Linked DNA regions of Homo sapiens. The protein of the gene in region 2 purifies or fractionates together with the protein of the main gene of each other region. This does not show direct contact. Each region holds a gene or a part of one and is shown on either strand. Other genes may lie near its edges.

Region 1 (3,744 bases), on a different chromosome or scaffold from region 2:
CAGGCCTCCTACCCTTCTATCCCTGCTGGAACCCAGCAGAACCCTTGACATCCGTACCCTCAGTTCCCATACCTCAGCGGGGGGTCTAGGACTGGCGATGTCTTCCAGCATCACCACCAGGGTGGGCTGGGGGGCCCGGTCCACCTTTTGTGAAGGGCCCTCCTCTGGGCCAGGGGTTGTCCTTGATCGCCGCCTCAGGGTGGAAGAGGTCCGGTGGATGCGGCTCAAGGGCTCGCGACACAAACACAGAGGGTCGGGAGGCCTAGCGAGGGAACAGGAAGATTAAAATGGCTCAGCTGGGCCCTCGGCTTACCCCCATCCTGCCATGCTCACCTGGCCTGCGAGGACCACCCGGCCTGCCGGGGTGGCGAGGCAGGCGGCTGCCTGTGGACAGGATCCTGATGGTAGCTGTGGTGCTGTGGTATGGAGGTCTGCTTTGAGGGCACCACGGGGACCTGGAAGAGAAAGAGGTGTCAAGAGCAAGGTGATAGAATGAGGCTGGACGGGACAAGGTTTCCCTGTGCCTCACAGTGCCCTGAGCCACAAACATAACAGAGATTGGGGCTAGAATTCACTCGGATCCCAAGAGAAGAGATGAATTGGACTGAATTAGGGGCCAGATATTAAGAGTCCTAAACTGCAGGTGTAGGACCTGGGTAATCTCATCCACGCTGTTTAGAGAAATGAAAAAGACAGGGTGAGCTAGGGTGGGTCACTGCCTTTTTTGGGCCAGTTTTTCTTATCTGTGCAGTGGAGTCAAAGACCTCAGCCTGCTTCCTAAGGAGGCTGGGCTGGGAAGAAAGCAGAAGAGTTTCGGCCCAGCGCCGTGGCTCACGCCTGTAATCCCAATACTTTGGGAGGCAGAGATGGGAAGATCGCTTGATGCCAGTTTGAGACCAGCTTGTGCAACATAGCAAGACCCTGTCTCTAAAAAAAAAAAAAAGATAGAAAAAAAGAAGCAGAAGAGTTTCTCAGAGTTACAGGGATGTGGTTCCAGCCCAAAATCGTTGGTGGGTGGAATGGGCACTGCCCAATTCTAGGTTGGAGTAAGTGGGAGCCAAGCAGGACTCTACCATGAGGGAGGCTGCCTGAGGGCTGAGTACAACAATGATGGATTTGGACTTCAGTTATCCTCAGTAGGGATCTGGCCCGAGTTTGGTAGTGAGGAAAGTCATGGGGGAATAGAGAGTCTCTTGGTTCAGGGGGCTCACCATGTGAACAGCCATGACATCTTCTAGCACCACGGCCAGGACCCGCCGAGAGGCCTTTTCCAGGGGAGAAGGGGCCCCCGGGAGCTGCAGCCTCGGCCGTTTCGGGCTCCTGGCTCCCCATAATGCTCGAGTCAGAGGCTGGCGGCACAGACGCGGCTGGCCAGGCGGGCTGGAGGGTGAAAGAAGCAGAGGACGGTCGCCCGAACCTGTCGCTGGCTCTGTAGTTTCCCGGCACGGTCGCCAGGATCCCCATCTCCCGGGGTCAAGACAGGCGGGCCGCCCGGGTACGCTCTCACCTGGAGTCCCCGGGCAAGTCCATGGGAGACGCGGCGGCTCCGGGGGGGTCCCTGGGGAATCCCAGGCTGCGGCCTGGGGTAAGGGGGGAGCGGGGGAGCGGGGGGTGAGGGCCGGCCCCTTCCCTGGGGCTCCGCCCTTCATGGTCCGCCCGCGGCTCCCCGTAGCCCAGCGGCCGCAGCCCTGGGGCGCGAAAGGGCGCCCCCGGCCGGTCGCCCGGAGCGGGTGTCCTCCCGCTGCCACCGCCTCGATCAGCGGATCACTCGCGCCCTGCCTGGCACCTGCCGCCAGAACCCAGAATGCAGCGGCCCCAGTTCTCCCGCGGCCCGAGCCTCCCGAGGCCTTTGTCCCTGCAGATTATGCCCCGAGATCCCCCGGGATCCACGGGGATCCCGGTCCTGGGAGGCTATTTCCGCTGGATCCCTCTGCGATCCTCCTCCTCTCCCAGCGAGTGGCCGAGGACTCCAAAGCAATACTCCATACATCGACGACCCTCCATCCCACCAGATCCCCTAGACTGGATCCCTGAGGAAAGAATCCTACAGCGCGGTTCCGCCAATCAGACGCCGGGCGAGGCTTTTCCTTCCCCTGTAAGCTTCAGCGCCGCAAAGCTCCGCTCAGACAGGGGCGGCCCGAGCTGGAGCATCTCCGAACTCAGCGTAGATCCCCAGGGATCCACTGTCAAGCAGATACCCTCTTCACTCCAATCCCGGGAGGTCCCGCCCACAGACGCCCCTTCCCTCCTCGCGTCCCCGCCCAGCGGTCTCCCCCGGCCCGGGACCAGATGGTTCAGAAGTTTCCTTCCCCGCCCCCACTCCCGCCCTCTCTCCAGCCACTCCTTGCCCTCCCCCAAGGGCTGCTCACCGCCGCCTCCCGTGGATCCCGGGTCTTCCGCAGCTCCCACCTCCGGCTCCTTTAAAAACCAAGCTTACCCAACGCTGCCCAACCGCCGATGGCCTTCTTCTCGGAGCCTCTGGACACCGCCCAATCGCCGGTCCCCGTCTTCCGGGGTGGTGAGAAACTAAGTGAAGCCACCTGGCGGCCATCATCCCTAGGGGCAGGAAGCCAAACTGAGTGGCGCCGCCATGATGGTTGAGGGCAGATGTCTTAGTCCTCGTTGAACCGTGGTGGACCGGGTGGCGTCATCTTTTGAGGGCCATATACAATGCCAGGTTTCTTGATATGTTGAGGCAACCGATTGAAGCTAGAGTGCCGCCACGCTTTTTAAGGGCATCTTCCGGTTCTTTCGTTCTTAGGCCAATAAACGTCGACTGAGTGCTAACGATATGTGAAATTCCCAATTTCCTAGAGTGGCCTCGTTTGAGGAAGGTTCCGGCATCTTCCTGGGTTCCTAAACTGGGTTCCCACGGCCCAGGGTCCGAGTTTAGGAGGGGGTGGTGGAGGCCCTGAGTCCGAACACCCGGGATCAAAGACGGGCTGGTGCGGCCTGTGGCTCCGTTGCTGGCGCCTTGTCCTGGAGAGATGGGACCGAGCCGAAGTGGGGAGGAGACTGGGGGCGCTAAGCTTGACTTCCCCTGAGTGTTGCCCACCTACTTCTTCCTGGAGAAGTGGGGGTGCCCACGGTCCGCGCAGAGGTCTATAGGACAGGGGCATCTTTGCAGGAGGCCAAGAATATACCTTGGCTTGCTAGTGGGGCCCGGCTCTCAGGAACCACTGTCTCAAGTGGGGCCCGCAGGATGGGGGAGGTGTAAATAGTCCTGAGGAGTAAGGGATCAGGGTGGGACGCTGCTGCTTGGAGGAGCTGCGTCATGGACCCTTTACTGGAAGCTGGGCTGTTGGTGGGGAGGAAGTGGGCATGTAGTGGCTTCTTGCAGCGCTATGAAGGTGCCCTGACCGCTTAACCAAAGCCCATGTCTGCACTAGTTCTCCTTCCCCAGATTCCCTGGTCCAAACCAGTACTTCTTTTCTTTTTTAATTTTTTTTTTTTAATTTGAGGCAGGATCTCGCTATGTTGCCCAGGCTGATCTTGAACACCTGGGCTCAAGTAGTCCTCCCGCCTCAGCGTCCCAAAGTGCTGGGATTACAGGCGTGAGCGCCCAGCACGAGTCCTTATTTTGTTTTCTTAACAGAACGAGAGACCCTGAAGCCTAGAATCCTGGGTCCGAGATAAGGTGCAGAGGTGCTTCCTGGTTTAGGTGTCATAATTCTCAGGGGATTGAGTGATGAAAGTGATAAAACAGGGCCGGGTGTGGTGGCTCACACCTGTTATCCCAGCACT
Region 2 (3,644 bases):
GCTGAAACTCTTTTTTTAAGGTGAGAAAGCCTTGAGTGAAAGATACCAATAAAAAGGGGAGGCTGGAGTTATAGAAAAGGGATCAACTGACAGAACCCAAGCCCTGAGATGGGTGGAGGACCCCAGTACAGGTGAGGCAGAAGGCAGACCCCCCACCCTCTGGGCTGGGTGTGGTCTGGCTGGCAGCTCACCTGGTGAGTGGTCCCCTCAATCTCTATAGGCACTATGAAGTCAGCATTGTTGATTGGCTGGAAGGCAGAAAAGTTAATGCTGTCAGCATGGTGGCAAAGAAACATGAGGCCCCCACCATACCCCTAGGTGGGTGGGGAGAAACAGGTCTTAAAGACTCCTGGAAGTGCCTCTGGCCACCTCATTAAGGGGTTCTCACCCTAGTTCAAGATGTGATACCCCATTCTGGTTTTCCCTACTCCTTAGCACCTCCACTCTGACAAATTCTACCTGGGCTGAGAGTTTTGGGGCCTGAGTTTCCTGAGGAGACAAGCAGGGGCAAGGGCCAAAGGTGATCCAACCACTCTTTTAGGCCTGCCCTGTACAGAGCCCTCGTGGCTGGCTTTCTGTGCTATGTGGCTCGGGGGCAGATGCAGCCTGTTGGGAGTGACTGGAGATAGCAGCCCTGGTGGAACACACAGGGTTCCTACTCAACATTCTTCAGTGGGGCCTCTAGATACCTGTGACACAGGGTGGCCAAAATGCCAGAGGCCTGGCCTTTTCCCTTCTAATCACTCTTCTTTCCTCACCTTTAGGCTGCCTTACACATCTGTTGCCAGATTCACAAGAAGGCCCAAGATAAAGGTAGGAAGGGTTCCAGACATTGAGTTACCTTAAAGGAGCTATGCACAAGGGTTTCATCGAGGTCAATGACCACACAGATCCTTCCTTGATCTTCCTCTGTCACCTCTGGGAGCAGGCAGGTCCCTGGGATCTAAAACCAAGCCAGGTTGCTGAGATCTGCCTACCAAGAAAGCCCAATTGTACCCCTTGGCATAATTATGGGAAGAGCTGGGTTGTTTGTGGAGACACAATCACCAACCCAGGATAGGCACCACTTAAAGGCCAGGAAGAAAGGAGGTGGAGTTGTTTCCTTGGTTTCAGCCTCCCAGTGGGACTATTAAGTGATCTGGACATTGGAGGTGGTGGCCAGGGCAGGTGTGGGATGGACAGCAGCTGTGGGAAGAGGGCATGGAGCACCAGCTGTCCCCTAAAATCTAATGCCTTGCACATAGCAGGCCCTCAACAAGTATGGGGAACAAATGGCTTCCCAGGTCAGGGAGGTGGCTGGCTAGGCACCAAGGACTATGCACATCACCCTGCCCGTGGAGCTGGCAGGGATCACAGGATCCTGGCTTCTGAGTACTTACCAGGCCAGAGTCACGTACCTGGTAGAACTGGTACTGGAGACACTGGAGCAGATCCGACTGAGGAAGAGAAGGAGGTGGTCAGTGCCATCTCACTGCCTTTCCCACCCCATCCAAACCCACTGCTTCTGTCTTAAGCCTGGAGGGCAACTTTCTCCCCCAGACCCAGCCACCTGGAAGCTCCTACCATGTCAAAAGTGACTTTTCCTAGGAGTGGGGCAGGAAAAGGGAAAGGCTAGAGCTTCCTTTCCACATTAGGCCTGATGAAGGATGGAGAAGACAAGTGTCCCTGTTCTCGGCTGCCACTGCCTCTCAACTGGACAAAGTGAGGAACAGGGAACTCAAGTAACTGATTCAGGGACACAGAGTCAGAGGCAGAACCAAAGTCTGAATTCCTCACAGTGGCAAACTCTCGCTAAGTCCTTAAACTCAGGCTTCTCCTTGAGAACATGTTGTTTTCCATGCCCTCCTTAGGGGTTATGTGGGGGAACAAGCCCTATAAAACATCAAGTAAGCCACATTGTAGGTACCCAAAATGTGAGGGGAGGGAGTGCAGAGAGATCAGCAAGCCCCCCACCCCAATTTTTGCTAATACAAATGTTATGACCGCCGGGCGCAGTGGCTCATGCCTGTAATCCCAGCACTTTGGGAGGCCGAGGCGCGCGGATCACCTGAGGTCAGGAGTTCGAGACCAGCCTGATCAACATGGAGAAACTCCGTCTCTACTAAAAATACAAAATTAGCCGGTCGTGGTGGCACATGCCTGTAATCCCAGCTACTCGGGAGACTGAGGCAGGAGAATCGCTTGAACCCGGGAGGCGGAGGTTGCGGTGAGCCAAGATCGCACGCCATTGCACTCCAGCCTGAGCAACAAGAGCGAAACTCCATCTCAAAAAAAAAAAAAAAAAAGTTATGGTTTTAAGTGTTCTTAATGAAAACTTTGAAGAAAAATTAAAATCCTAGCACTTAGATAAACAATGTGGCATTCAGTGTACTGCCTTCAAATCTGTGTCCGCAGACTTTTTCCAGAATGCTATACAATTACACACTCTGCCTTTTTACTTAATGTTGCAACTCAATACTTCTCCATGTTATTGAGAACTCTGTAAAAGCTAATCACTCAGTAATACTGTCATGTTGTATTTTATTTAACCATTTCCCCTACTGCAAAATGCAGTGATTTTTCACTGATGTATGTCTTCAGCCTGGTCTTGAGAAAAAGGAAGGACAACCAGACCTCAGTGTTTCAGAGAAGTACCACTGGCTTTTGGGGCAGAATAATTTTTGTTGGTCGGGGCTGGCCCCACCTGTGAAATACTAGACATATAAAAAATACCCACAAAATCCCAAATGCCTTGCATGAGTATGGGAGAGAACTGCTGACAGGAGTTATTAACAGCATGGTAGAGTTTCAATTCCTTGGTTCCCTGTAACTCAGGTAACTTGGAAGTTAGCTTTGCATAATTGAGAACAACAACACAGGCTTTAGAGCCAGAGAAATCTAAGTTCAAATCCTGACACTACTATTTATTAACCATGAACTCTTCAGGTGCTACATAAACCCTCTACATAAATCCATATCTGCAAAGTGTGAATCCTGTGATCTCCTTACAGGGCTGCTGGCTGGATCACATGAGACAATATATGCAAAGCACCTTGCCTAGTTCCTGGAACCTGGAAGGATCAGGATCACAGGGGCCCTCAGAAACCACAGTGACATGTGAATGGCCCACACCGCAAAAGGGAAGGAACAGAAAGGAAATACACTACTTATGGAAGGATGGAGGAAGGGCCCCCTCTCAGCCAGAAATCTTTGCAACTTCAGGCAAAGCTTCCTTGTCCGGTTGCCATCGTCTGCAGGGATCTCCCATTAACAGTCCCTTCATTGCTGGCATCTTACCACCCCAACCCACCTACCTTAGCAATGGTGTTTGCTTCCTCCTTATACGCAGCGAGCTCAGTGGAGGAACTTGACTGGCCAACATGCTGGGCGCGAAAACAGCAGAAAAGGGCCTTGAAGATGTTACGTCCACGAGGCTTCTTAGGAGAGGACTTGGAGACCAGGCCTAGGGTGGAGAGAATGACAGAGGCTTTAGCTCTAGGGACATCAGTTTCTGTCCACAGATACTACCATGCCCATAGCTCTTCTAGTTTGTAAACTCTACTAGGGCACACAGTATACGGCTGGTGAACAACCACATACAGTTAACAGTCAAACATACATGTTTATTCCAGCCTTTTCTCTTTAAAGCAGGAATGTCAGGAATC
Region 3 (3,644 bases), on a different chromosome or scaffold from region 2:
TAGGGGCAGCGCTCGCCACGGTTGCACCTGCCGAAGCGGTTGTAGTACATGCAGTACTCCTTCCTCTTCTCCCTGCGCTGCCGCGCCTGCCGGATGATGGCCAGGCTGCGCTGCACTGCCCGGCTGCAGACGGGGAGAGAGGTGCGTGAGCCTGAGGGCGAGCAGGGAGCCCACCCACTGCCCAGCCCAAAGGCATTACCTGGCCAGGGAACGGCTACAGCTGCCTGCAGGATCCAGCCGGCCTGTGGGGGAGAGAGGCACGGGTCATAGCAGGCCACAGCCTGGCCCGCACGCCCTTTCCCTGCTGACCCCCTTAGTCGAGGCCCTCAGGGGTCCCAACACTCAGCTCAGGCACAGCCTCCCCTCCAGGAAACTGCCCAGAGCTCCCCTCCCCACAGTGGTTCAGATGCCCTGGGCCCTGCCAGGCCCCTCTGGGGACACAGCACCTGAGAGTGGGGAGCTGCTGGGCCCTGTGTCTAGCTCCTCTCCAGGGCAGGGTCCGGGCAGGGCTCCTGTCCCTGCCCTCAGAGCCAGCAAAGCCAGGCAGCACCCGCGGAGGGCTTGGCCACGTGGGCTGGAGACGCCCGCCTGTCCCTGCTGCCTCCCTGGCCAGGCTCCCCAGGGCCACGCTTTGCTGGCTGGAACCCCCCTGCTGGCTTCCTCATGTCCCTGGGTGCCCACCCTGGGCCAAGGCAGTGACTGGCCTATGGACACTGCTCCTGGCTCTCTCCTCAGCCCTGGCCACCCAGGAAGCTGCCCTGTAAACAGAACAGCTGCTAACAGCAGCACCTCCCTCTGCCAGGGCCTGGGCTGGCAGGACCCGCGGGGTCACTTAGACCAGGGGGTGAATATGGCCCATGGGGCACACATGGTCTGGCCTTTTGGGAGCAAGAATGGCTTCTGACTTTTAGAGGGCTATAAAACTAAAGACATGCAGCAGAGAAGGTGTGGGGGCAAAGCCCGCTTGGCGGAGGCATCTGCCCAGCTGCCCACTGCAGCTGTGGAGGTCTGGGGGAAGGGCACCTGTCCCTGAAGCCCTGGGCTGGCGCTGGCAGATCCTGGCTAGTGTCTGTTACTCTAAATTTTAGAGGTGCCTCATCAGATGCTCCTCAAAACCCCAAGCATAAGCACCACCCCCGCCTTTCTGAAACCGCACACCACGGCCTGGGAGGGCGGCCTGGGAGTGCGGTGGTGGCAGGAAGGAAATGGACCTTGGGGCTGGACATGGCCGAGTGCTGCCAGGCCTGAGAGCCAAGGGGATGAGGCGGGGAGGGGGTGCCATCTGGAGGAGGAGGGTCTGCTCCGGTGACACAGCCCTGCCTGCCTTTTACAGACAGAGGTCACCCAGGATCACGGGGTGGGCAGGGCAGGACCAGCCTGCTGAGGGCGGCTTTCCCGGGTTCCTCAAATACGCGCATGATCCTTCCCAGACCAGATCCAATTTCCTACAGGGCAAATGCTGAAATGGACACTGCAGTTAAGAGGCAGAGGTGACATCACTCAGAAATTCTGGGGACCTGAGGTGGTGACAAAGCCATCCTGGTTTAAAAAGGGATGTCCCAAAGCCGCCCAGCCCCAAATAGCCAGACCTGCCCCACTCTTGAGCACCAGAGAGCAGCCTCGTCCTCACTCTCCCAGATGGCCCAGCAGCCGCAGACTCCCACCCGAGGACCCAAGGCTTCCGCTCCCTCGCACCCCCAGGCTGGAGCCCCCCCCACTCCTCGCTTTGTGCTTTGCGTCCAGCCCAGTGCTCCCTAGCTAGGGTCAGTGGTGCTGCTGCCCTTCACCCTCAGGGGCCCTGCCTACTGTCCCCACTCAGCCCGTCTCAAGTTTCAAAAGGGCAGCTCCAGAGCTGAGTGGCCAGCGAGCCCGGCTGGGGCAGGAGCAGGAGCTAGTCATGGTACCTGGGGCAGGAAAGGGGGCGTTGAAGAACGCAGAAACCTGAGGCGTGTGGGGGGCCAGGGGCAAAGGGAGGGTGATGAGGGTCTTGGTGCGGAGGGACCAACGCGGGGGTGCTCAGGGCAGCCCCCGTTCTCAGGCCGGGACCCTTGTCCCCGGGTGGGCAGCAGGGCCCAGTCCAGACGGCACGGGCACGCCCTCACACCTGCCAGCCTGTGGGGTGAGGGACGCGGCAATGCGGCGGTCTGTCGGCACTGCTGGTTCCCAGTCTCTCGCCCAGGCTGCCAGTGACACTGCGACGCCATCTGCTCCAGGCAGGGACACACTGGCATCACGTGCCCGCCTGGCAGGACCGGGTGCAGCAGGAGGGGTTACCTCCCTTTCCACTTTGTGCTCTTTAAAAAAATGCCAGTGTGAGGCTCACGGCAGGAGTTCTGACAAGAACAGGAGGCACTTTTTCAAATGCTTTGCAGTGTTAAAAAATGCACATAAAATAGCTGGCTGGAAAAGAAGCAAGGGCTGCCTGAGAAGTGCTAAAAAGTTCAACTGAATAACCCCCAGCAGCTCCACAGCAGAAGGCGCCATGCATTCCAGAGAACTTTCACTTCCCCGGGATCTTCTCAGAATAGACTCGGCTCCCACCAGCCCCACCCCCTGCTCGGTGCCCCAGTGCCAGCTCTGGGCACCGCTGGATGTCAGGCTCTGCAAGGCAAGCGGGGTGGGGGCCTTGCAGTCAGAGGTTCCTCAGCACCTCCAGGCCCTGCTCCGGCCAGCACCCACTGGACAGCTGCTGCCTGGCCCAAGGGACAACATCCACGATGACCGGGGCACGCAGGCAGCCCCAATTCCCAGGCCAGCACTCTCCCAAGAAGTTAGGCAGGGCTGCGCCAAGCCCTGGTCTGCTCACAGCGCGCCCACCAGGCCCTCCAGGGCACGTCCGTCTGGCACATGGAGGCTGTGCCCTTGGGAGAAGGCAGCCAGCGGCAGAGGGTGCCCCAGAAGAGGCAGTGTGGGGCGGGGGCAAGCCGACAGGGCCTTCGTCACCCCAGGGAGGGTGGGCAGGTGACCAGCAGGGGAGGCGCAGAGGCCGGACGTGCCAGGAACACGCAGCAGCTGGCCCACAGCAGGGAGGGCCACGGCCACAGGTGGCTGGGGGCTTTGGGGACACAGAACAAGCCAAGGCCAGCCCTGTGGCCAGAGACTGGGGCCTCTGCCCCACCACAGGAGCCATCAGGCTCATGGTGGCCACATATGGGCCATGCTCACTGGGGGCCCACACAGGATTCTGTGGGGAGGGACCCTGGAGCTCAGGCCTTCAGGTGGCAGGCGGGCCCAGGAGGGAGGGCTCGGCTTCAGGGACTGGGGAAGCTGGGGGTAGAAGCCATACTGTCCTCTGCCGTCAGGGGCCCAGAGCCCAGGGGGTCAGCCAGGACAGCCACCCCCACCCCTTCCAAGAAGGCTGCTGCACTTTCTTGTTGAAGTCAAATTTCTGCTGACACCAGGGGAGGAAATTTATTTCTTTAATTATTATTCCTCTTAAGTGGGCTGGTCAGCGGTATCCCACAGCTGGGAGCCATCTACCTTCCTCATGGCGAGGCGGGGCCGGTGGTGGCCCAGGCAGCTGGAGCTGTGGCCTCGCCTGTCGACCCAAAGGGCGAGTGCGGCCTCACTGGGCTCTGCACAGCCCCAGGACTGCCACAGTCGCCACCAAGGCTGGCCAGCGGGACACCGGAGGCCATAGCCCT

What was found.
Region 1: the proteins of CTDSP2 (region 2) and PRR14 purify together in Homo sapiens (affinity purification with mass spectrometry; 3 studies listed by BioGRID and IntAct, with this or other methods). This does not show direct contact.
Region 3: the proteins of CTDSP2 (region 2) and ZC3H3 purify together in Homo sapiens (affinity purification with mass spectrometry; 3 studies listed by BioGRID and IntAct, with this or other methods). This does not show direct contact.

What each region holds. Positions count from the first base shown.
Region 1 is NC_000016.10:30,649,432-30,653,175, reverse strand, and holds the start of PRR14 (proline-rich protein 14), read right to left. Parts: upstream 2,217-3,744; 5' UTR 2,049-2,216; intron 1,581-2,048; 5' UTR 1,531-1,580; coding exon 1,508-1,530; intron 1,381-1,507; coding exon 1,212-1,380; intron 456-1,211; coding exon 334-455; intron 263-333; coding exon 73-262; intron 1-72. UniProt on the Homo sapiens protein: Functions in tethering peripheral heterochromatin to the nuclear lamina during interphase, possibly through the interaction with heterochromatin protein CBX5/HP1 alpha. Might play a role in reattaching heterochromatin to the nuclear lamina at mitotic exit.
Region 2 is NC_000012.12:57,826,155-57,829,798, forward strand, and holds part of CTDSP2 (carboxy-terminal domain RNA polymerase II polypeptide A small phosphatase 2), read right to left. Parts: intron 3,443-3,644; coding exon 3,294-3,442; intron 1,437-3,293; coding exon 1,398-1,436; coding exon of another isoform or gene 1,380-1,397; intron 944-1,379; coding exon 842-943; intron 249-841; coding exon 192-248; intron 1-191. UniProt on the Homo sapiens protein: Preferentially catalyzes the dephosphorylation of 'Ser-5' within the tandem 7 residue repeats in the C-terminal domain (CTD) of the largest RNA polymerase II subunit POLR2A.
Region 3 is NC_000008.11:143,468,418-143,472,061, forward strand, and holds part of ZC3H3 (zinc finger CCCH domain-containing protein 3), read right to left. Parts: intron 243-3,644; coding exon 200-242; intron 124-199; coding exon 1-123. UniProt on the Homo sapiens protein: Required for the export of polyadenylated mRNAs from the nucleus. Enhances ACVR1B-induced SMAD-dependent transcription. Binds to single-stranded DNA but not to double-stranded DNA in vitro. Involved in RNA cleavage.